2 separate regions of the Homo sapiens genome follow, and region 2 is linked to region 1. The links come from fine-mapping of genetic effects on gene expression. A gene starts in region 1. The other region holds a variant in brackets. All regions are shown on one strand. Distances are from middle to middle.

Region 1 (11,147 bases):
GATTTGGGGTAAAGTTTAATGGAAAAGCCGTGGAAACGTTGAGTTCACAAACAGGACTTCCCGTGCAACTGTCCAGCCAGACCTGGGGCAGCTCCTGGGGACCCTGCCCCCTTCACACACACCCATCCCATCCATGGTGCCTGAGAGGCCTTCATCTTCAGTTCCCTCCACCAGATCAGTTGGGCATGTTGGGGGCAGAGATGGAGGGTTGTTGAATCACACTAGGCTCTGTAAGCTGAGAAGACGATCCTGCACAGGGTGGCATAAGCCAGTCCCTCCTGCCAGGGCACCTGCAGGGCGAGAAGTCACATGCCAGACTGAGGCATGCTTGCGAACACTAGCCTGGCCCCAGCAGCAGGGGGTGCTGGAGGAGCTGCAGCTTTTCCCCATCTTGCTGAATTATTGATGGGCCTGGCACTGCCCCTACCCCCAGCTACAGCCATGTTTCAATCAAAAAGGGACAAGGAGGAGAGTGCTACCAGGCTACCTGTGCATGCTGCCCATGGCCTGTCTTCCTGGGGATGGGTTCAGCTGCCCTAGGAAGCATGAGCCCCTCTGAAACCACCCCAGGACACGTGGATGTGGCAGAGACCTTGCTGCCAGGGGCTCTCTCAACCATTCAGGGAACTGGCTGGCAGCTTACAGAGTCAGGAGTCCTCCCTGGCCCGGCCCTTCCCCTCCAGCAGGGGCAAAACAGCTGTGGCCTCCCCCAGGCAGGGAAAGTGGTGGGTGTAGGGCTGGACTTGCCGGCTGAGCTTGCAGGACAATCTGGTTATTCATCTGCTTGAAGTCAGGGCAACTCTTTGAGTATGTGGGGGAAGGGTGAGGATAAGAGAGACCAGATAAGCTGGCCCCACAGCGGCTGCCACTGGAGCTCAGGTTATCAGAAAGGCCTTGGGCCTGGCCTCCGGCTAATTGGGGAGGTTATGGAGCCTGCCATAGCCTGTAATCAGCTGGAAGGGAGAGCTGGGCCCCAGGGTTGGGGACCTTACTGGCCACTGGCCCCAGAGCAGCCGCTTCCTATCCTCTACAGATAACATCCAGGGCAATCTGGGACTCACCCCCAGCCCCAGCAGACCTAATGGTGGCATCATCTGGGAGGGCATCAGAACATGAATCAAACTGTGGCTGATCAGGGGACCTTTAGGAATCCATGTGACCTACCGATTCTCTCGGCACTACCTGGTCAACGGGCAGCTTTACTACGGACTTCCTCTCAATTTGATGAAGGAAAAATACCTTCATGATCTGGAAAGAGGCCGGTGGGAGCCAGCGTGGCAACTGAAGGAGCAAGAGTACTGTCTGAGATGAGAAAAGGCACGGTGGGCCTGAGGCCAATTCAAGCACACAAGCTCAAACACCAGGGCCAGCCCCTCTGTCAAGGAGCAGAGGCCAGGCTAGGCAGCCACCAGTCTGGAAGTGTATATGGTTTCTCAGTGGTAATTTTTTATTTTCACAATTCAGGGACTCATGAAACTAGAAAGTACCTGAGAGTTCTGTTCGAGCCTCATTTTTTTTGCAGATGACAAGCAAGCCTGAGCCCCAGAGAAGGGCAGGGCCTTGCCCAAGGTCACAAAGTCACACGCCTAGTGAGCCTATCCCTGTCTGCACCTGGCTGCTTCACACCCTGGCCAGTTCCCTTAGAGGGACCCAAATCCGAACTGACCTCCCTGTCCTGTGCCCCTATCCCATCCAGAATGCTGACCCCACTGATCCCCATCCTGACTCCATCAGGCTTCCTGCCTGGGCTGAGAGACTGAATTTGCAGCTGCTCCCTTGCCCCTGTGTAGCTGGAAGGCAGCCCTCCCACTGCAGACCTAGAACTGGAGGCTCTAGAGGCAAAGGGACAGTGCATCCTGTATGTCTCGAATTCAGAGCAAGAGCCCAGGGGAGGGTGGCAGCCCTGGCATCTCAGGATCACCTTGCTGTAGGAGCAGGGGTAGGCAGCTCAGCAGCACCGGCTTCTTAGGAGTGGGTTTGGACTTGCTCTCTTTAAGGTCCCAGGGTCCCATCCCAGCTCTGCCACCAGCAGGTACGTGGCCTTGGGTACATGACTGCACCTCTGGGATTCAGGGTCCTCATGTGTAAAGGAGGGAGTGGAGGGGAGAGAGCAGCATGCCCTTCCGAAGGCGCGACAGAGCAGAAGCAGGCAGAGGGGAAGCTGCGGGTCCACAAGGCAAACCCATGGTTCGAGGGGAAGTTGACAGCCAGGCCAGGTGCCCCTTAGCAGGGATGGGGAGGGCGGAGGCGGCACAGCTGGAGCCCGGATTGTGGCACGCCGTCACCGTGCTGCTCCGGGGAATCCCGACCCGCTCCCTGCGAAAGCGTTTCCGAACGCGAACCCAGAGCCTGTGAACGCGCCGGCAAGCCCCCCACTCCCCCACCGCCGCCCGTCGCAGGTGGGCCCGTCCTAGGGGTCCTTCCTGCGCTCTACCCCGTCTCTCAAGTCACTCAGTCGATCGCCCCGTTCACGCTCCCGTGATCCCAGACATCCATAACCACGATCTCGCCTCCATGCACATCCAACGCACGACGGTGCACAGACGTGCACCTGACTTCTGCGGACCAGGTGTCTCAAGCGTACAGCGGCCACCCGCGGAACCGCGGCCCGGGGCCAGTGAGTCGTCTGCAGCTCCCCGGGTTAGGGGATTCCCCAGAACTCCGGGAAAGTCACCCGAAGTCCATCCGGGATGCGGCCTTGGTTCTCGGCCGCGTGATCTCGCCCTTAGGTGCAGAACGACGCCCTTCCAGGGCCCACAGCTGCCAGGCTGGGCCTTGCCCTCGCATCCCCCGGGAAGACCAGGGACGGGGCCACACAGGCCGTGGCTGCGGAGACGCTTCCCCGGGCCACCCCGCGACCAGGAGGGAGTCGAGCCGCCCGCTCTCCCCGCGTCCCCCGCCCCATCCCAGCCAGTTGGCCCCACCCTGCGCGGGATAATTGGGACGGGAGGGAGGCGACGGGAGGGCGGCGGCTCCAGAGAGACTGCGCGCCTGTCAGCGGCAATTTGTTTAAGTGGACGGGACGGGCCGGGCCGCTGCGGGCTGGGGTCACCGAGGCCGCGGCCCCCACCCCAACCAGACCTGGGACCGCGGGGGAGCCCGGTCCGGCCGCTAAACCGGGCTGGCTGGCGCCAGGGCTCCGGGAGGTGCGGTCCGGCGGGGAAGCCGTGATGGGAAGCGACTCTGTCCAGGGAGTGTCCTTCACCACCACACTCCTCACGTCCAGGCAGTGATCGACGGCCTGGCGGCACCCTCACAGCGGGCCCATAGCACGGGGCCACACACGTCCCCTGAGCTTAGCCTGGGCACATTCGTCTGCCACCGAGGGCTTAAGCCAGTCTGCAGCCCGCGCCCCGTCACTCGGACGCAAGTCCGTCGTCCGCTCTGCCACGCGGCCGCACAGCCCGAGCTTCCTGCTGCCCACTGCCCGCGGGGTCACGCAACCCCGGCCCTGCACACAGAGGAGGAAGCGGCGGGGACCCCCTGCCACCTGGAGGCTCAACCCGGGGAAGGTCCCAGCAGTGCCCCTTAACCCTGCGAGAGGTGACGGGGCCGGAGGACGGAAGGGCAGCCACGCCAGGCTCAGGACCGCGGCCCCACCCGGCCCAGGCCGTCCCCGCTCCCGCCCCATTTCACTGTTGCGGGAAGCGCGGGGCGCACAGACCGCGCGCCACCAGCCCAAGCCCGCCCGACGCCCTGGCCGGAGACCGCCTGCGAGAGGGAGGGGCGGCCGAGCGCGCGTCCCCCGCCTGTCTGCGGGACCTGGCCGATGCGAAGTGACAGGGGCCGGAGCTTTGTTGTGGAGCCTCGGCCGCCTGGCGCCAGCCGCCCCCGCCCGCGCCCTCCCCCTCCAGCCCCGGGCGGCCCGCGAGGCGCCCCCCGGGGCCTCTTAAAGGAACACGCACACTCGGCCCCCGGGGCTCCGCCAGGGGAGGGGGTTCCTGGGAAGGGGGAGGGGGCCGGCCTAGGTGGGGGAGGGGCCCAGCGGAGGCCTCACGGCGCCGCTCCAGGGCCTCCCAGGCCTCCCCAGCGCCAGCTTTCGGTGAGCCTCGGGCATTCCTAGCTGGAGAGTTTGGCTGGGGGTCGCTACAGACTCTTCAGAGCGGCTGCAGCAGGACCTCAGGGTGATCGCGGGACCGCGGGGCGGGGCGAGTGGTGGGATCCTGGCCCGGACAGAGCCCCGGAAAGCCAGAGGGAAGGTCGGTGCCACTGTAGGTGGGGTCGCCGTCCCCAGATGCAGCCGCTGCACTGTCGCCGCCAGGTTTCTCGGTCAAATAACCCAGGCCTGAGTGTTTCAAACTCTTCAGGCCTCGGACCCCTGGACCAGCTATGGATGGACTAATGAAATGGACTAATGTCTAAAACGCACACATTTAGATGTACACATACTCTTACAAGGACAAAAGTATGTGTCTACACACACACACACACACACACACACACACACGCGCGCGCGCGCGCGCGCGACTTTGCGAATGTATTCACGGATTCCTAGGCCGGTACCTGGGTTCCCGGCTAAGGAAAGCTGCCCTGGTTATTATCTGGTCACCTCACCGGCTGCGCAAACGTGTCCACAACGGGTCCCTCCCCGAGAGGCCACATCTCGCCTAAGGTGGAGCCAGCAGGTATTTGCCTGTGGAAAACTGCAGTGGATCCTGCCCCGTCTGCGTAGACTGCGCAGCTCGGAGTCAAAGATTCGTTCTGGCCAGAGAGGAGGTACTAAGAGAGGTGCGACCTAGCCAAGAACGAGGTCGTGGAGAAAACCCTGTGGGGGCGGCGCTCACATATGCGGTGATGAGGAGTTGTGAGGGCCCTGGGGTCGGCCCCGAAAAGTAGGGATAACGGTCGCAGAGGCCATACTGCTTCCGCCGGTCCCGAATCCGCACTGCCAGGAGAGATCCGGCCTTCAAACGCTGCTCCCAACGTTCAACAACGAAGTGCCCTGCGACCGGTGTGCGCAGTGGGCGGGCGCCTGCATGGGTCAATGTTGGATGTACGCGCCCACCACGCGGTTGTACGGGTGGGAATGTCACCCGTGGCTAGTGCATGCTCTGTCTTTTCCTTCAGAAAACGACCTTCAGGAATCAGCCTGAGTGTTCGCGCCCGAGCCCGATTGGAAGCAGGTGCGTGGTCGCTTCACTCTCCCCGTGCACACCTTGAGTTATAGCTCTCGCTGCGCACAGAGGGCACCACACGGGGCCCGACACACACACACACACACACACACACACACACACACACACACACACCATCACTTCATGGGGGGGAAACTGAGGCTGCCGGAAGACAGAAAACGAAGACTGATCACAGAAGAGGGGGCTTCAATCACAGGTGCTCGCAGACACCCCAACTCCCTCACGCGTTACTCAGCACTCCTTAACTTAGGAGACGTGCGCTTCCGAGAGATGAGAAGAAACTAAAAAAGTGGTTGGCAGGGCGAAGAGAGGAAGCCGGTATTTCGGAAGAAGGAGACTTTCGTCTCCGGTACCGGATAGGGCGAAAATTCGTTGGGTCGCGGGTGGAGAATCCGGGGTCCGCCCGCGCGGTGCCGCCCTGTGCTCAGCGAAAGGTGCGCTCACCTTCCTGGCCCCGAGGATCCGCTCCTCCCGGCCGCTGGAAAGCTCAGGGCGGGGCCCGGGCCTGCGGAGAACTCCAGGTTCCTTCCGAGTCTTCCGGTGAAGGCGGGCGCGGGTAGGGGGTCCCCGCGTTTCCCCAGCGCAAGGCCGCGTCCCGCTCCCGCCCGCGCCGGCCCCAGCAGGGCTCGGCCATGGCTCCACTCACCAGCTCCCGCCACCTGGGATCCGCTCCCGGACCTCGGCCGCCCGAGCCTCCCGACTCGCCCGCCCACCGGCCTCGCTTTCCAGTGCCTGCTGTCTCTTTCCGGGGCGCAGGGACCCCCAGGCGGCGCCACGACCCGGAGCTGGGTCGGAGGCCAGGCTGGGGCTCGGGCCAGAGCGGCCGGGCCTCTGGGCGCGGGAGAAGGAGGGCGCCCCCTCTCCGCTCGGGGTCGTGTCAATGCTTTGCACTTGGGGCCGGCGTGCGGCTGCGGGTCCTTCCCCAAGGCCCCGGGACCCGGGCTCCCCTCGCCTCAGGCCCTTTCGGCGGGTCAGGTCGGCCCTCCGCGCTCTCCAGTCCGGCGCAGGCAGCCGCAGGCGCGGGCGGGCGGTGGGGGCCGGGGCAGGAGGAGGGGTCTCGGGGCCCGGCGGCCCGTCATTGGTTAATATTTTATTCTGTTGACATGTTTTCTTACTGCTGAGGCTTCCGACACCTTCTCCCAGGCCCCCCCTCCCGGCCGGAGCTTGGCCTGAGCTGTCAAAACCCCGCCCCCGGAGACCCACAATTGGTCCAAAAAGCGTAAAATCAGCAATCAAGGGGGGCCTGGCTCGTTAGCGCAGGGGATCCGAGCTGGGCAGGACATGTGAGATAGTCACAGTTTTCCAGAGATCACGACAAGATCTAACCAGTCGCGCGTGGTCCCCGGCGCCGGAGCGGGCCAGCTCAGCCCGGCCCAGCCCGGCCCCGCGCAGAGCCCCCGCCGCCCCCGCGCACAGAGCCGGGTGCCCCTTGCGGTGCGCCGGACGGGAAGCCCCGAGGAGCAGCTGCTGCGCCCGCCACCCGGGTCGTCCGTCCACCGCGCGCGCCGCCGCCCGGGCCGGGGGTCCGAGCCGCGCGCCCCCGGCCCCGGCCCCGGCCCCCGGGCGCCTGGGCCGGATGTCCCGATGAGAGAGCCGGCGCTGGCGGCCAGCGCCATGGCTTACCACCCGTTCCACGCGCCACGGCCCGCCGACTTCCCCATGTCCGCCTTTCTGGCGGCGGCGCAGCCCTCCTTCTTCCCGGCACTCGCGCTGCCGCCCGGCGCGCTGGCCAAGCCGCTGCCCGACCCGGGCCTGGCGGGGGCGGCGGCCGCGGCGGCGGCGGCGGCAGCAGCGGCCGAGGCGGGGCTGCACGTCTCGGCACTGGGCCCGCACCCGCCCGCCGCGCATCTGCGCTCCCTCAAGAGCCTGGAGCCCGAGGACGAGGTGGAGGACGACCCCAAGGTGACGCTGGAGGCCAAGGAGCTGTGGGACCAGTTCCACAAGCTAGGCACGGAGATGGTCATCACCAAGTCCGGGAGGTAGGGCTGCCGGCCGGCTGGAAGGCGCGCGGGCGGGCGGGCGGGCTGGGGCACGGGACTGCACGGATCAGAGCAGAGCTGGGGACTCCCGGCTCCCGGCTCCCGGCTCCAGGTTCTGGCCCTGACGCCACGCTTCGCTCCCACGGACAACCAAGTTGACTTTTCTCGTTTGGCACCGGAGCGATTTTTTTTTAAAACAAAAACGCTAAAATCCTCCGAATGAAATAAAACGAAAACATACTGCTAAAGAATAGCCCCAACCGTTCTGAGTCCCAGCGCAGAGGAGGCCCCGCGGCTTGGCCCTGGCGGTCTCCTCCGCCCCGCGCTCTCGCTCTTCTGCGTCCGGGTCCGTCTCCGAGCTCGGGGGAAATTCAGCCTCTCTCAGACTCTGCTCCGACCCCGAAGCCCCTAGTGGGACCTGGGCCCAGCTAACCCCACGCTGGTTGCTCGGTTCCTGGCAGCGAGCCCCGGGTCAGCCGAGCCCTCCGCCTCACCGGGCTGGGAGCCCTTTCTCCACCGCGGGCATCCGAGCCCTGGACGCATCCGCCGCCCCAGGCCTTAAAGCCTGAAGAAAGCCACAGCCCCGGCCCCTCCACCCTTCGACTCAGCCACCGAGAATCCAGGCCTCGGGTTCACCCTCTTCCCCCGAACTGCACGGCCAGGATGTCTTATCAGGCTCTGTAGCCCAGTTCCCAATACAAACACCCTCCAGATTTATTTCTGGGAGCTTCCGTCCCAAGTGGGTATTTCCCCTGAACGAATTTCGGGGAGATTAAGGAGAAGCGAGAATATTTCTAGAGGGCCTAGACTTCTCTCCTGGGCATCAGCTTTCATCTCAGATCAGGGAGAAAGAGGGTCCCCAGATCTGAGCACAAGGCCTAAAGGAGGCTGTTTAGGAGAGGGTCTGACAGGCAGAAATGGGATCTCCTGGGAGCAACAACCACAGGTGGGGTCGTCCGGGCAGTGATGAGAGGGCAGAGCAGCCGACCACAGGGGAAACAGCCAGGCGGCAGCGGTGTGCGCAACGAGGAGGGATAAATAAAGGAGGAGTGGGGTCCTGGAACCTAGAACAGCCGGTTCCAATGGGATCTCCTCCCTTCCCTCCCTCCCAGGCGGATGTTCCCCCCCTTCAAGGTGCGAGTCAGCGGCCTGGACAAGAAGGCCAAGTATATCCTGCTGATGGACATTGTAGCCGCTGACGATTGCCGCTATAAGTTCCACAACTCGCGCTGGATGGTGGCGGGCAAGGCCGACCCTGAGATGCCCAAACGCATGTACATCCACCCAGACAGCCCAGCCACGGGGGAGCAGTGGATGGCTAAGCCTGTGGCCTTCCACAAGCTGAAGCTGACCAACAACATCTCTGACAAGCACGGCTTCGTGAGTGTTGGGGCAGGGTGGGGACGGTGCAGGAGCTTGTTGACCCAGCACTGCAGCTGAGCAGGAGAGCAGGGCGGCAGGATCTCCCAGGGGGAAGCGCTGGGCAAACCCCCAGAGTGCCCCTGCCCGGGTCACTGCCCTGTGGTCTACGTGGGCTGGGCCTGGGCCTGGGCCCCAGCGCTCTCCTTTGCAAGCCTGGGAAATGGTGGGGTCAGTGGCTGGCAGCTCACAATCTCAGTTCCTCAGGCCGTGGAGGGTCCCTTGTACCGTCAATAGGGAGGCAGGTGCTGCCAGGACTGGGTCTGCAGTGCTGGACCACGGAGGTCACCCTGCTCTTGGCCTGTAGGTGCCGAGCTTGGAAGACCTGCCCATGACCTCAACTTGTCCATCACCCTTCTGCCAAGACCCGCGTCCCTGGCCCTCCCCCAAGACTAGGGGATTTAAAAGTTAAACCACCCTCCCCACCCACCCCCCCAGCCTCCCTAAGACCTTTCCCTCCTCCCACAGGCAGATGCCCAACTAGGAGGAGAGGGTTTGGGGGTTCTCTCCATTTATGCCTGAGCAAGGCCCCAGCGAACGGGGGTGGTGTTTCATAGGGTAAAAGGAACTGCCCATTCTGAGGTAGGGCAGTTGGTGAGCCCCCGAAGGTTGGAATCTCCTCTTTGTGGGGTTAGGGGGTTTACCAGTGCCAGAAAGGAAGAGAGTGTTAAGAGTGGAATTGTAGGGCTCTGTTTTGTTTTATTTTGTTTGGGTTTCTTTTGTGGGGAGGGGTTGTTTTTTGGTTGGTTTTTTTGTTTTGTTTTTTGTTTTGTTTTGTTTTTGCTCTGTCTCATTTCTGTTTCCAACTGGGAAATTTTTTTTAATGGCAAGAGAAAAAGAAGCTGTGAAAAGAGAAAAGCGAGAGGAAAAGTAGAAGAAAAAGAAATAAGGGTGAGAAAAGAGCAGAGACAGGAGAAAATGGGGAAGAGGAAGAACCGATAGAGAGAGAGAGAGAGAGAGAGAGAGAGAGAGAGAGAGAGAAAGTGGAGAGGAAGAGGTCAGGTACCCAAAGAATAGAAAAGCTCGGGCCGGGGCTGGTGGCTGCCGGCTGACCCCCACCCTCCCCGCAGACCATCCTAAACTCCATGCACAAGTACCAGCCGCGCTTCCACATAGTGCGAGCCAACGACATCCTGAAGCTGCCTTACAGCACCTTCCGCACCTACGTGTTCCCGGAGACCGACTTCATCGCCGTCACTGCCTACCAGAATGACAAGGTGCGCGCGGCGGGCGGTGGGCTAAGCCCCTGCACTGACGCCCCTCAACACGTGCAGGCCCAACCGTCCGTTCATCGCCCCTCGAAGCCCCCTGCACGGGATCCGCGCTCTTGCGGCCCGCCCCCGAGCACCGAGCCTCGCATCCATACGCGCAGCACTCACGGAAGTCCTCAAGGCGCCCTCTCAATCCCACCGCGCGCACACACAGGCTCCCCTGGGGCGAGCGAACAGCTGGGCCGTCGTTCTGATGGAGATGTTTACTTAACAATTAGCTGAGACTCCGGGCCCGCGCTGACATTTTTACATTTTATTCGTTTATTTCTTGGCTCAGGAATGAGAATGTAAGTGAAGAGAGGGCGCCCGAGGCAATCTGCCCAGGCTCTACCGATGCTCAGAACCCGGGGCCCAGTTTTCACTCTCTCGGGGGGAGCCAGAGGGTGGGACAGGTGACACAGCCCCCCAAAGCACTCCTGGCTACTGCTCTGGGTCAGTCTAGGCCCCAGACCCCTTGGGAGGCGCTTAGAGAATTACCTTCCAATCAAAGGGCTTTTTCTGCTTGCGGCTTCTCCACCCTTGTTCTAGTGGGGCAGAGCATCACCCCTCTAGGCCTGTGCCCTTGTGCGCCACTGTCGAGTGAAAGAGAGGGTACGAGTGTCCGTGCCGGTCGTTGTGGCTTTGTGAACCAAGGTGTACGCTGGGCTGTGCGTGCCCCGTTTGGGGTGTGTTGGATACCTGTGGAGGCATGTGAATTCGTTTGGTTCCGTAGGCGTTTGTTATGTCTGTGCACACTTGCGTGTGTGCGAGCCCGTGAGTGTGATTTGGCTTTGTGTGTACCTGCAGCCTTGCGTGTGAACTGCAGTCTCTGTTCGCGCCTGCTCGGGTGCGGAGTCGTTTAACTTGCGCAAGCCCGCGGGCGGGTGTGCATGCTTGGGCTGGTTCCGACACTGTGGCACTGCTTTAGGCCTGTGTGGGGCTGTCTAGGCCTGTCTAGGGATAATTCCTCGAATGAAGCTTTTGGAGGACAGACCCCGTCGCTTTCCGCGAGGCCCTCCCACCGGCCTCAGCTCGGGGCGTCCCATCCCAGGCGGGTGGGTACCAAGTGGACGCTCCCCGGGTCTTCCCTCTGCGGCCAGCACCCGCTGACCTCGGGGTGCCACCGACCACGCTGGAAGAGCCACGGCCTGACTTAGCGCCGCCCCCTTGGTCCCCGCAGATCACACAGCTGAAGATCGACAACAACCCGTTTGCCAAGGGCTTCCGGGACACCGGGAACGGCCGGCGGGAGAAAAGGTGAGAGGCCGAGGACAGCAGCCCTGTGGCGGGTGCCCGCGGGAGCAGCGAGCAGGAGGGATGGAGGGATGGGCTCCCCGCTGACCTGGTTCATCCGCTCATCCCCA
Region 2 (11,147 bases), 150 kb before region 1:
AGTACAGTGTATATTAATTTCACTGCTACTTTCTGACATTCATCATTCCATGAGAAATTATCACAGATGAATACATCAGACTTTTATTTACACTCCAATTCCTACTCAATGTAAAGTTATTTAACTTTGACGATAGCATGCAAATTTGATAAAGATGAGGTTTTTAAAAACCTGAACCATTTATTGATTTGCTAAGTATAATTTTCACATTTTTCTTATAGTATTCTATAATACATCTTTCAGAAGGAAAACACTTGAAAACTAGTATAATCTTCAGGAACCGTTCAATCAGAAATAATGAGTGGAGAGGTCACTTATCAAAAATATATTGTTTAAAATACTTATATTTAAGTATTTCTAGTCTTTGAGGTAAAAAGTTCTGCCACAAAAAGTATGGATTCATTGGGCTTCTGAATTCTGTACATGTCACGATTTTTGCTCTTGGGCTAAAGATAGAAAGTAAAATAAAATGTTCTTTGTCCATTTAGTTATCCTTGACTCCATGAAATTCTCCAAAGTAATTACTGGTGACCACAATACCACCTACCAGCAAGAGCAGCATTGACCATGTGCCAAGTCCCTTATTGCCGACCACAGCTGCTCTTGACTACAGCAGATGTTTCTTCTTTTGACTTGGCAGTAAAATTTTATTAAGCAGTTTTGCAAGTAGAGAGCAGCATACTCTACCTGATGAGTGGCTGGAGATCTTAGCCCTTTTGTGCAATCAGCTTAGTTTTCTCCTATCTACCATCAGGCCCCCGCCTCTAGGTTCCTTGGATCTCACCAACCAGGCCTCAGGCCTTGTAAACTGCAGTCCTCTTGGGTTTGCTTCCCTACCCACCCATGTAATTTTCCCAAAGAAAATAATGTTAGAAGAGCAGCCGCACTTGTGGTTACAACTTGCGGCATTGAAAGGCTGTCACATTGGAACTTTGTTCCTACCAGTTGTGGGTTTACAAAAAGGAGTTGGGGTACTTTGTTGGGATGTTTTGTTAGGATGCTTTTCTGAATTTTTCCACATCTCTTTGGTTTGGATGTTGACTTGGAAATCTCTTTTGAATTAGCTTCTTTTGGAGAGCTTTCTGCTTTTCTGAGCACTTCTTGGATCCTTTCCCCAACAAAGCCACCAAGGGAACTTCTTCTGATCCTATCTCTTTTGTAGGTGGTACCCTATTTGAGTCCTTCTGAAGACTGGAGCACATAAAGGCCTGATTTTTTCTTCTGAGTTGGATTGGATGGTTTAACATAATTTGTCTCTATGTTTTCTGTCTTGGGTAAAGGAATATATTTGTGAATTGTGGCTGATACTACTTTAAAAAATTCCAAAAAGAAAATCTAAAGGACCATTCCTATGATTATTGCAACCCATTTCTCAGGTCTTTCAAAGAAAACAACTCGTAAAGATACTGGCAGTTGAAGGTCTAAGTCCCAGCCTGGCATGAATTCCCAGAGAGCCTTGGGCCTTGGGAGGAGGGGTAATATACAAGATTAGAGTGCAAAGTCCATCTGGTGAGAATTTGTCTGGTTTGTGCTTCCTCAGCAGGGAGGAAGTAGCAGTGACCTCAGTCCTGAATGGTTATTTCAGAAGTGTATCATGGTGGGAATTTAGCCAGCTTTGTGGCAGATGACCAACCCTGATAGCCTGATTTTTAAGGCCCCTAACACAAATGATACCAGGACTTCTTTGAATATTCTATTTAGTCTGTACTAGGACACATAGGACAAGATGAGCGACTATTTTAGACCTGTAGGTCAAGAGGTTTGAAGCAGTATATTCACCTTTTACACTTCAAACCACTTGGAGTATCTTAAAGAAGTAGTATACTGTCAAATACTTATAAAACTTCCTTCTTCTTTGCTCTTAAAGATAAGACGTTGTTTAGATGAATATATATTCTTTTCCTGTGTATTCTACTATTCCTGCAAAAATTTGTTTTTAAAATAAGAAACTTGGCTGGGCTTGGTGGCTCACGCCTGTAATCCCAGAACTTTGGGAGGCCGAGGCAGGTAGATCCCCTGAGGTGAGGAGTTTGAGACCAGCCTGGCCAACATGGTGAAACCCCATCTCTACTAAAAATACAAAAAATTAGCCGGGAATGGTGGCGGGTGCCTGTAATCCCAGCTACTCGGGAGGCTGAGGCAGGAGAATCACTTGAACCCAGGAGGCAGAGGCTGCAGTGAGCCGAGATCACACCACTGCACTCCAGCCTGGGCAACAAGAGTGAAACTCCATCTCAAAAATAAATAAATAAAATAAAATAGAAACTTGAAAATAATACCAGCACTGCTAGAGTGGGTATTTGGCTCAGTTCAGGCCTGTGCCTTTTTTTGATGTTCCCAGAGCAGAGCACTCCTTAAACTAGGATGAGAAAAGTTAATTTTAATCCTCCAAAGGCTTATTTGCTAGCACAAAAGGTCATGAAACACACCCAAAACTATATTGCTAAAATCTGAAGGAGAGAGATCTCAACAGCAGAGATGGACTCTAGTGTCCCAACATAGAATTGTGTCTCTGGCTGAAGAAATAGTTTGTTTTAGGAACGCCAATACAAAAGCTACAGAATGGAAGAGTTTTCCCTTAACTGATCTAAGGGAAAATTCTTTTTCTCGTGTTGTTTTAGGAAGCTCAGAATTATTTAGAAATACTTGTGAAATCATGGTCACAGGAGTTATTTCCAAGGATGTTTAAGTAGCTGCTCTCTGCCCATTATTTTGATAATTACTACACCTTAATCTGTTATCTGTCAAAAGGGAAAAAACTTTCTGTTATCTACCTGATAGACCCATGGAATACAAAAAAAATGTGATGACCCAATCACATTTAAAGCTTTTAAAGCTCCCTTTTGAGATGATTTCTTAGGGTACTAAAATATCACCTGCCCCAGAGTTTACAAATCAGAAATTGAATGAGGCAGGCTTAAAGAGGATCAGAAAACAAGATACCAAATAAGAGCAGCCATTGTAAAACTAGAGAAGGTTACGAAATGGCCCTGCTTTTCTATAAGGAAGGTCGAAGACACCAGGCCCCTTGCCCTGGGTTTGTCTGGTGGAAGTTTAAGGAAAGTTCATACCCTGGGCCCAGTAGAGAGCTTTGCCTTCATAATTGTCTGCATATGATTTGACAAACATAAGACCTCAGTGTTCCTAGATCGTTTATCCCCCTCAGCAATGTGCTAAATATGAAGTAAAAGGTTACCAAAGGGAGGATAGGGAAGAAAACCTAATTACCAATCCTGGTAATTTTAAACATGAGAAGATTTATAAACAACGGCTTCTTCATACACTTGTGAGTTCTGACATGTTGTGAAAATAGGACCTGCTAAGCCATTGAAAGGATTTTCAATATATTGTACGAGATGGAAAGAGGACCCAGAGAAGGCTTGTTTTTCATTTTAAAGAGTTGCTTTAGAAACCAAGGTTGTAACTGAGCACTGCTCTGTGCTGTATCAAGCCGTAATATCCAGTGAGTCATGAAGGCATTAGGGAAGCACTGGAGACATCATAAGAAACATTTGAGTTAATGTTTGAGATAAGGAAGATGATTATCTCTAAAAAGAAACTGAAATTAAGGGGCACAGTCTCCCGTTTTCGGACAGCTAAAAGGCATTCTTTTCAGTGATCTCTCCTTTACTAACCCATGTACATGCTGTGAGTATGTGACCTAGAAACCAGGCTTTTTTAAGCTGAGCTCTGGATACTTGTAGACTGAGACCTTGGGCGAGTTACTGCCCACCTTGGCTTCAGCTTCCTCACCTGAAAACGAGTGATCAACCAGGTAATCTTTATGGGGCCCTTCTGGCCCAAGGACTCTATCAGTCTGGTTTTTGAACATTATCCTACATTAGACAATCTCAGAAAGGTTTTATGACTTGTGGGTGCCTTTGTGGTACTTCACATGAGCGGGAGGTCTTAAGACTATGGACCCCTTGGGAGACCAGTGTCTAATTCTACTACTTCCTCCTCCCCAAGAATTCAGATGGTGAAACACCCTCATCCCTCCAGCCCTGCCCCCAGGAAACCCTTCATTCAGAAAGGTCATTTCATTTCCTGTGAGCCAGTCTTACATCACTGGTGCAAGAATTGGGCAGTGCTTGCCCAGCTGGAAGGTGAGACATTGGAGGCCTCAGCCTGGTGTCCCAGACAGTATTTGTCAGGCTGATGATAAGCTGGTGGAGAGTCTGTTAACTCAAGGCCTGATTCTAATGAATTTGGGATTCCTTGCTGAAAAAAAGACTGGGCTGGGTGTGGTGGCTCATGCCTGTAATCCCAGCACTCTGGGAGGCTGAGGCGGGCGGATCACCTGAGGTCAGAGTTTGAGACCATCCTGGCCAATATGGCGAAACCCCGTCTCTACTAAAAATACAAAAAATTAGCCGGGCCTGGTGGCGGGCGCCTATAATCCCAACTACTAGGGAGGCTGAGGCAGGAGAATCACTTGAACGCGGGATGCAGAGGTTGCAGTGAGCCGAGATTGCGCCATTCCACTCCAGCCTGGGCAACAAGAGCGAAACTCCACCTCAAAAAAAAAAAAAAGAAAAGAAAGACTGGATCCTGGTCCATCCAAGATGCTGCCCTTGAGACCTCTGGGTTGATGACTGATATGTTGGTCTCTTGGGACAAGGCTGTACAGTTGAGAAAAGTAGCAAGAACATCAGATCTCTGCAGATAATCTGGCCCCCATAAAAAAGCAATAGCAACTGGGAAAAGGCTAGACTGCTAGGTTCCCAGCTATACTGGATTATTAGACAAAGCTACCCACTCCATCTTTGTTTATAGAACTCATTTTCAGGAACAAGTGTTTTATAGTGAGGTGGAGGTTGTAAAGAAGCTCTTTATAATGAAGATCCCAAATATGTGAGCCTTCTATCAAGCTTGATCTCAAGGAACTTTACACGGGTGGCAGTTTAGAAGAAAAAGAGAGAAAAGGATAAAGAAAAAAACTAATAAAAATAGCTGAGATCACTCAACAGTTATCAAGAAACAGATACTACAGTTTTATAACACGAAGTACTAAAAGTATATGCACTCTTAAAAGGCAATTAAAACGTATGCTCCAAAACTATAAAACATTTTCTTTTCATCTGCAACATAGAGGGCAGATTACAACACATTAATAACGTTTTGTTTAGAGTTCAGTTTCTGATGGTTTCCAAATGTAGTCTGTGTAGATTAACCAGAAGGA[G/A]TCCAGTTCTCTTTTTTAAGAGCGCTTGTAAAGGAAAGCAATGTGGTAAGATTGTTATGAAAAGAGAGTGTATTTAGGAAATAGCACTTAGCAGGGTCTCTCTGAATGGCTGCCAGGTCAGGAAGCTGAAGTGCAAGGCTTGGCCCTTGTTCAGCCCCCCCAGTTCCAGCTTCTTGACCACACAGTACGTCAAGAACATGTCACAAGCCAGCCAGGAAGACTCAGCCCCGCCCATGGGCCAGCTTGGCACGGCTGCTTTCACATAACCCAGGGCTCCAGAGGGGCCGGAGGCAGGCATTCCAGGGCCACGGGAACATGCAAGTTTTTAAAATAGAAGTGAAGGACTTAAAAAAAAAAAAAGCCTGGGAATTAAACAGTTGCTGAGTCCTTGAGTCCTTATGGAACATGGTTCCTCATGTAGAGTGGCAGAGGTGAAAAGGGCCTTAAAGGTTATCTCATCCTCTGCCCTCTGCTTATAGACAAGGACATTGACCTGCTTACAACCATAGTGATAGAACCAATTGTGGAATCCATATCTGTCAGCTCTTAGTCTGCTAAACACACTGGCTTCTACCTCACTGGGCTAAGCTGCCCTTTCTTCCTTGGATTTTGACTCTAGAAAGCTGTCCAGTAATCTGTTCCTATACATTTTTTTTTTTTTTTTGAGATGGAGTCTTACTCTGTTGCCCAGGCTGGAGTGCAGTGGTGTGATCTCAGCTCACTGCAACCTCCACCTCCTGGGTTCCAGCTATTCTCCTGCCTCAGCCTCCTAAGTAGCTGGGATCACAGGCATGTGCTACCATGCCTAATTTTGTATTTTGTAGTAGGGATGGGGTTCCACCATGTTGACCAGGCTGGTCTCGAACTCCTGACCTCAGGTGATCCACTTGCCTCGGCCTCCCAAAGGCCTGGGATTACAGGCATGAGCCACTGAGCCCGGCCCGTTGCTATACCATTTGTTCCTACTACTTGCCTAACTGTTCTATGTCTCAGTCTCAGTTTCCTTGTCTACAAAATGGAGATAATATCAATGCCTGGGCTGGGCCCGGTGGCTCACGCCTGTAATCCCAACACTTTGGGAGGCCGAGGCAGGCGGATCACCTGAGGTCAGGAGTTGGAGAGAATATATATATATATAATCAATGTCTGCTTCACAGAGTTACAAGGATTGATAGAATAAACATGTGTAACATTTACAGTGCCTGGTATGGAATAAGGGCTCAATAATGTTATCTATTCCCATTAATAATAGTATTATTAGCATTATACTATCATCTGTCTTATTGCTACTACTATTTCTACAGTTGCTACATCAGCAGTCCCAGGAACTTGGCCTACGGCCTAGGCATGGCGTATGAGCTCTATGGTAGTAGAAGGTCAGACCCAGGATTGGAGGAGGGGCAGCTGAGTAGAGGGGAAGATGAATCTCGGATGCCTCTGGGCCAGTGCTTCATAAAGTCCTGTGCTCAGATTCCAGCTGTGGAACAGAGGTGCAGAGGTGGATTTTAATGTTATTGTTGTTTTTGCTTTGTTTTGCCTTTCCATTTTTGTTGTATAGTTTTAGTTGAAAGAGACTTTAGAGATGATTAAGTATACATTACAGTTCGGCCTCCACGGTTTACATGGGGGAAAACTGAAGCGCAGAAAGAAAAAGTGACTTGCCTTATGTCTTGCTAGCCTTACTTGGTAATTGAGTAGAGCTCTCTTGTCTAATTTACATATAAAAGGAAAACTGGAGAAGAAAGAGCCTTAGGATAATACTCATAAGATCTAAAATTCCTTTAGCCTTTCTTCTACATCAGGCCCACTGGGACCCTACTTAAAACCCTCATTTTGACCTGGTTCCTCAGTCAGCATGGAGACAAGCCCGAGGAAAAAACTCAAGAGAGCCGGCCTCCTTCCTTAGGTATTATTAGAGAGCAATCCCCTATAAAAGTTAAGTGGATGTTTGTTTTTTATTTAAAACCTTCAGGAGATTTAACCCTGCTGGGCTGCTCCTGCCTCACCCACAGCAGTGTCCCTTCAGGCCTCACAGAACACTTCTGCCGTAAAGAGGGCTTGCTTTCAGAATGCTTAAACAACTCTGACATGCACATTTCTTTGCTTAATACAAGGCTCACTGATTTAGAAGGTAAAATTACTTTCTTAGTTGATGCCTCAATTGTTTTTTCCTTTGAGTTCTTATCTCTCCTTTGCCCTAGTGTCAAGTCAGTTTTCCTGTTTTGCTAAAATGTTTGATCAACTTTAAGATTAGAAAATTTATGGCGGGGCGCGGTGGCTCACGCCTGTAATCCTGGCACTTTGGGAGGCCGTGGCGGGCGGATCACAGGGTCAAGAGATGGAGACCAGCCTGGCCAACATGGTGAAACCCCTTCTCTACTAAAAATACAAAAATTAGCTGGGCGTGGTGGTGGGCGCCTGTAGTCCCAGCTACTCAGGAGGCTGAGGTAAGAGAATCACTTGAACCTGGGAGGTGGAGGTTGCAGTGAGCCGAGATTGCGCCACTGCACTCCAGCCTGGTGACAGAGTGAGACTCCGTCTCAGAAAAAAAAAAAAGGATTAGAAAATTTATACTGCTTTAAATACCCAGTGAGTATAGTATATGATTGCTGGAAAAGTCGTTCATCCTGACCAAGAACAATACAATAACAACAAAACCATTACCTGGAAAAACCAACTAGAAATTCAGTGAGAACATTTTAGCTTTTTCCTTTTAAATTTTTAAAATTCTGACATTGCCTGGTTACATTGAAACAGCCCTGTTGTGTCATCCTACTTTCTTTTTCCTGGTATTTTCCTCTTTGGGACTTTGGTTTCATTAATCTCAATTTGTTCTGAAGGCACTAAGGCAGATTTTCAAAGAGCTGTAATTGTCACAGGGAGAGCACAATGACTTATTGAAGTTTCACATGTTGCTCTTTTTGGAACTACCAGAGATTGGAACCAATTCTCCATCCACATCTCTATCCGAGAGTTAAGTTTTCTCTTCTCTGGTGCTTGTCAAAAGTATTTCTCCCAGCTAATCTCATTCCCAGTTGCCAAAGAAAAGATCTCAAGCATAACTCCTCATCTCCAGGTCACCCGACAAGGTAAGAAGAGAGATTAAATGAATGTGCCCAAGTTTCTTTCCCTTACAGCCTCCAGATCTCCAGAATATACCTTCTTTAGTTTCCACATCACACTTTCCTACATTTCTTCTTAATTTGATGATGTCTTGAGAGTATCTCAGGAAACTGGTATGACTACCAAGGGGACAGAGGCTTTTGTAGCGCATCAATACCCCTAAGTCTATCCATCCTTCTCCAGAAACACAGTGGGCACATCTTTGCACCCTGTGGAATCAATGTTAGTGCTGAAATCAGAGTAGACTTGGCTTTGTACTTTTGTCTGGGTAGTTGGCTTAAGTGCCGTGTCTGTATTGAGTGACACTTCTCCATCAGAATTCTTATTCTTTTGGAAGCCTAGACTATTTCTTCATTTGACCACACTGTGCAGGGTTTTAGTGCTAAAGGGTTCCGGATGTAGCTGCTCTTGTGGAGAACCTTATCACAGCTTTCTTTTCCCTAAGTTATTTGTGGTAAAGTCCTGGCAGTTTGTTTAGATGTTCAGTGAGTGACACCTAATTGAAGAAGTGGCTGGGGCTGGACTTCAAGGTGGATGGTTTTCTTACCAAGTACTATGAAGAGATTTGCTCCTAGACTTTAGAGATGGGAAATGCTGCTCTCTTTTCCCCTGAAAATTGAGTCTCGTCAAACTGACAAGTTATTTTCTGAAACTCCGAGTCATAATTGTACCATATTTATTTTCTGATTTTTTTTAACCTTTCAGTTAATAAATGTTTTCCAGCCTCCATCAGCCTCTACTGGTAATCAGGAGAAATGGGCCAATGGCTTTATGTAACTGAGGTTTCTGTTTTAACATGAAAGTACTATATTTACCTTCAAAATGACCCTCACTTAGATCAGACTACCTGGGGTTGTCAAGCCTTCCATCTTCAAGCCAAGAGGTAGTTTGGTTTTTGTTTGTTTGTTTGTTTGTTTGTTTGTTTTTCATTTATTTTTATTTATTTTATTTTATTTTTATTTTTTGAGGCAGAGTTTCACTCTCTCGCCCAGGCTGGAGTGCAGCGGTGTGATCAAGGCTCACTGCAACCTCCGCCTCTGGGGTTCAAGTGATTCTCCTGTCTCAGCCTCCTGAGTAGCTGGGATTACAGGCGTGGGCCACCATACCTGGCTAATTTTTGTATTTTTAGTAGAGACAGGGTTTTGCCATGTTTGCCAGGCCGGTCTCAAACTCCTGGCCTCAAGTGATCCACCCACCTGGGCCTCCCAAAGTGCTGGGATTACAGGCGTGAGCCACCGCGCCTGGCCGTTTGGTTTTGTTTAGGTGTCTTTGTCCATGGAGTGCTATGTGTCCAGGGTTGTTGCCCACTTCCTGCCTTTGAAACCAGTGAATTGTGTCACCAGAGAGCCTTGGATACAGAGATAAACTGGAGACAGAGTAACACAAAAATAATCATTTCAAAAGAAACCTGAGGCTTTCAGGGTTGTTGGTATGCCATGGCACAAGGACCCAAAGTGATCTTCTCAGGCCTCAACCCCAGCCCATGCAGATGGTATTTGAGCCACTTACAAGAAAAGGTGAACCTTAGTACTGCATATAAATAAGTCTCTGAGTAATTCCTTGGAGGTGAACCTAGGTTCTCTTTGAGGTATTTTCTCTACCAAAATCAAGATTTTTGGATTTAAAAAAAAATTTACATTATGCTTTTTATTTACACAGCATTTCCGCTCACATGATTTCCATTTAGATCTCAATCTTTGCGATCGGTGTTGTCATGTCCATTTTGCTGATAAGGCTTAGGGAAAGAAACTCTAAAATCACATTGCTAATAAAGGGCAGAACTGGCCAGGCGTGGTGGCTCACGCCTGTAACCCCAGCACTTTGGGAGGCCGAGGCAGGCAGATCACGAGGTCAGGAGTTTGAGACCAGCCTGGCCAATATGGTGAAACCCCATCTCTACTAATAATACAAAAATTAGCTGGGTGTGGTGGCCACACGCCTGTAGTCCCAGCTACGCAGGAGGCTAAGGCAGAAGAATCGCGTGAACCTGGGAGGCGGAGGTTGCAGTGAGCCTTGATCACACCACTGCACTCCAACCTGGGAGACAGAGCGAGACTCCATCTCAAAAAAAAAAAAAAAAAAAAAAAGGCAGAATTCTGGCATTCCACCCATGTCTTCAGTCGTTTCTTCAAGAATACTTTTACCAAGCCACCTTCCTTTGAATGGAATACTTTAGCGGTCCCAAGAAAGTCTTCCTTTATATCAAAATAGCAAATATTTTGGTCATGTTAAAATACTTTTCTTCTCAAGAACTTTGATGTGCTGCATCTTCAAATAATAGAAATCTTAATTCATTATTGTCTTGTTTAAGGTAACATTATGTAGAGGGAGGAACACGGAATTTGGGATCAATCAAATAATTCAAAATATGATTCTTCTCTGTGATAAATGTGTGACTTACACTTAGCTTGTTTCTTCATCTAGACAAATGTGAATGGTAAACCAGCTCAAAGGGGTCTTGCAAGTATTAAATGCAGTGACACAAACACAGTGCTTAATAGTAGTAGGAATCCATAAACAGACATTTCCCTTCCCATTTTCACTCTGGTTCAAACTGATCTTTTCTTTCTTACCTCCCACTTCTTTCTTAGATCAATTCTTTGCTCATGGGAAATGTAATTGTTAATCCTCTCTTGAGCATAGATTTTCTCTTCCCACCTTATTATTTTTGTGCACACTGTTCCTTCCTCTGAAGAGCCCTGCTCTTCTCAGTGTCCTTCATACACTCCTGGTTAACCACCTACAGGATTTCTACTCACCTTTCAAGGTTTAGAGAAAATAGCGCTCTTCCTTGCAACCTTTCTGATTATTCCAGTCAAAAATTGTCTTCTTTTCTCTGAAT

Alleles and levels. Positions count from the first base shown, and alleles are read on the strand shown. Sizes are in standard deviations (SD) of each study's normalised expression.
For the expression in thyroid of the gene that starts at base 6,149 in region 1, allele A in region 2 goes with a higher level than allele G (large effect, 0.77 SD a copy in GTEx).

The links. PIP is the estimated chance that this variant, and not a neighbour inherited with it, causes the effect.
Region 2: its variant is the best candidate, but not a certain one, in a credible set for the expression of TBX2-AS1 in thyroid (GTEx, PIP 0.56).

The regions. Positions count from the first base shown.
Region 1 is chr17:61,393,458-61,404,604 of GRCh38, forward strand. It overlaps TBX2-AS1 (TBX2 antisense RNA 1), which reads right to left and starts at 6,149. Exons shown (of 2, transcript NR_125751.1): 1 at 5,782-6,149; 2 at 1-290. It overlaps TBX2 (T-box transcription factor 2), which reads left to right and starts at 6,386. Exons shown (of 7, transcript NM_005994.4): 1 at 6,386-7,114; 2 at 8,227-8,494; 3 at 9,604-9,750; 4 at 10,964-11,040. The coding sequence starts at 6,720. RefSeq lists an enhancer at 3,671-4,222, promoters at 5,343-6,603, 6,223-6,470 and a cis regulatory region at 6,459-6,470.
Region 2 is chr17:61,247,052-61,258,198 of GRCh38, forward strand. All of the region lies in intron 22 of BCAS3 (BCAS3 microtubule associated cell migration factor), which reads left to right. Among named protein-coding and RNA genes, the nearest start is that of BCAS3-AS1, 120 kb to the left of the region's middle. The variant G/A (reference allele first, on the strand shown) is at 5,183.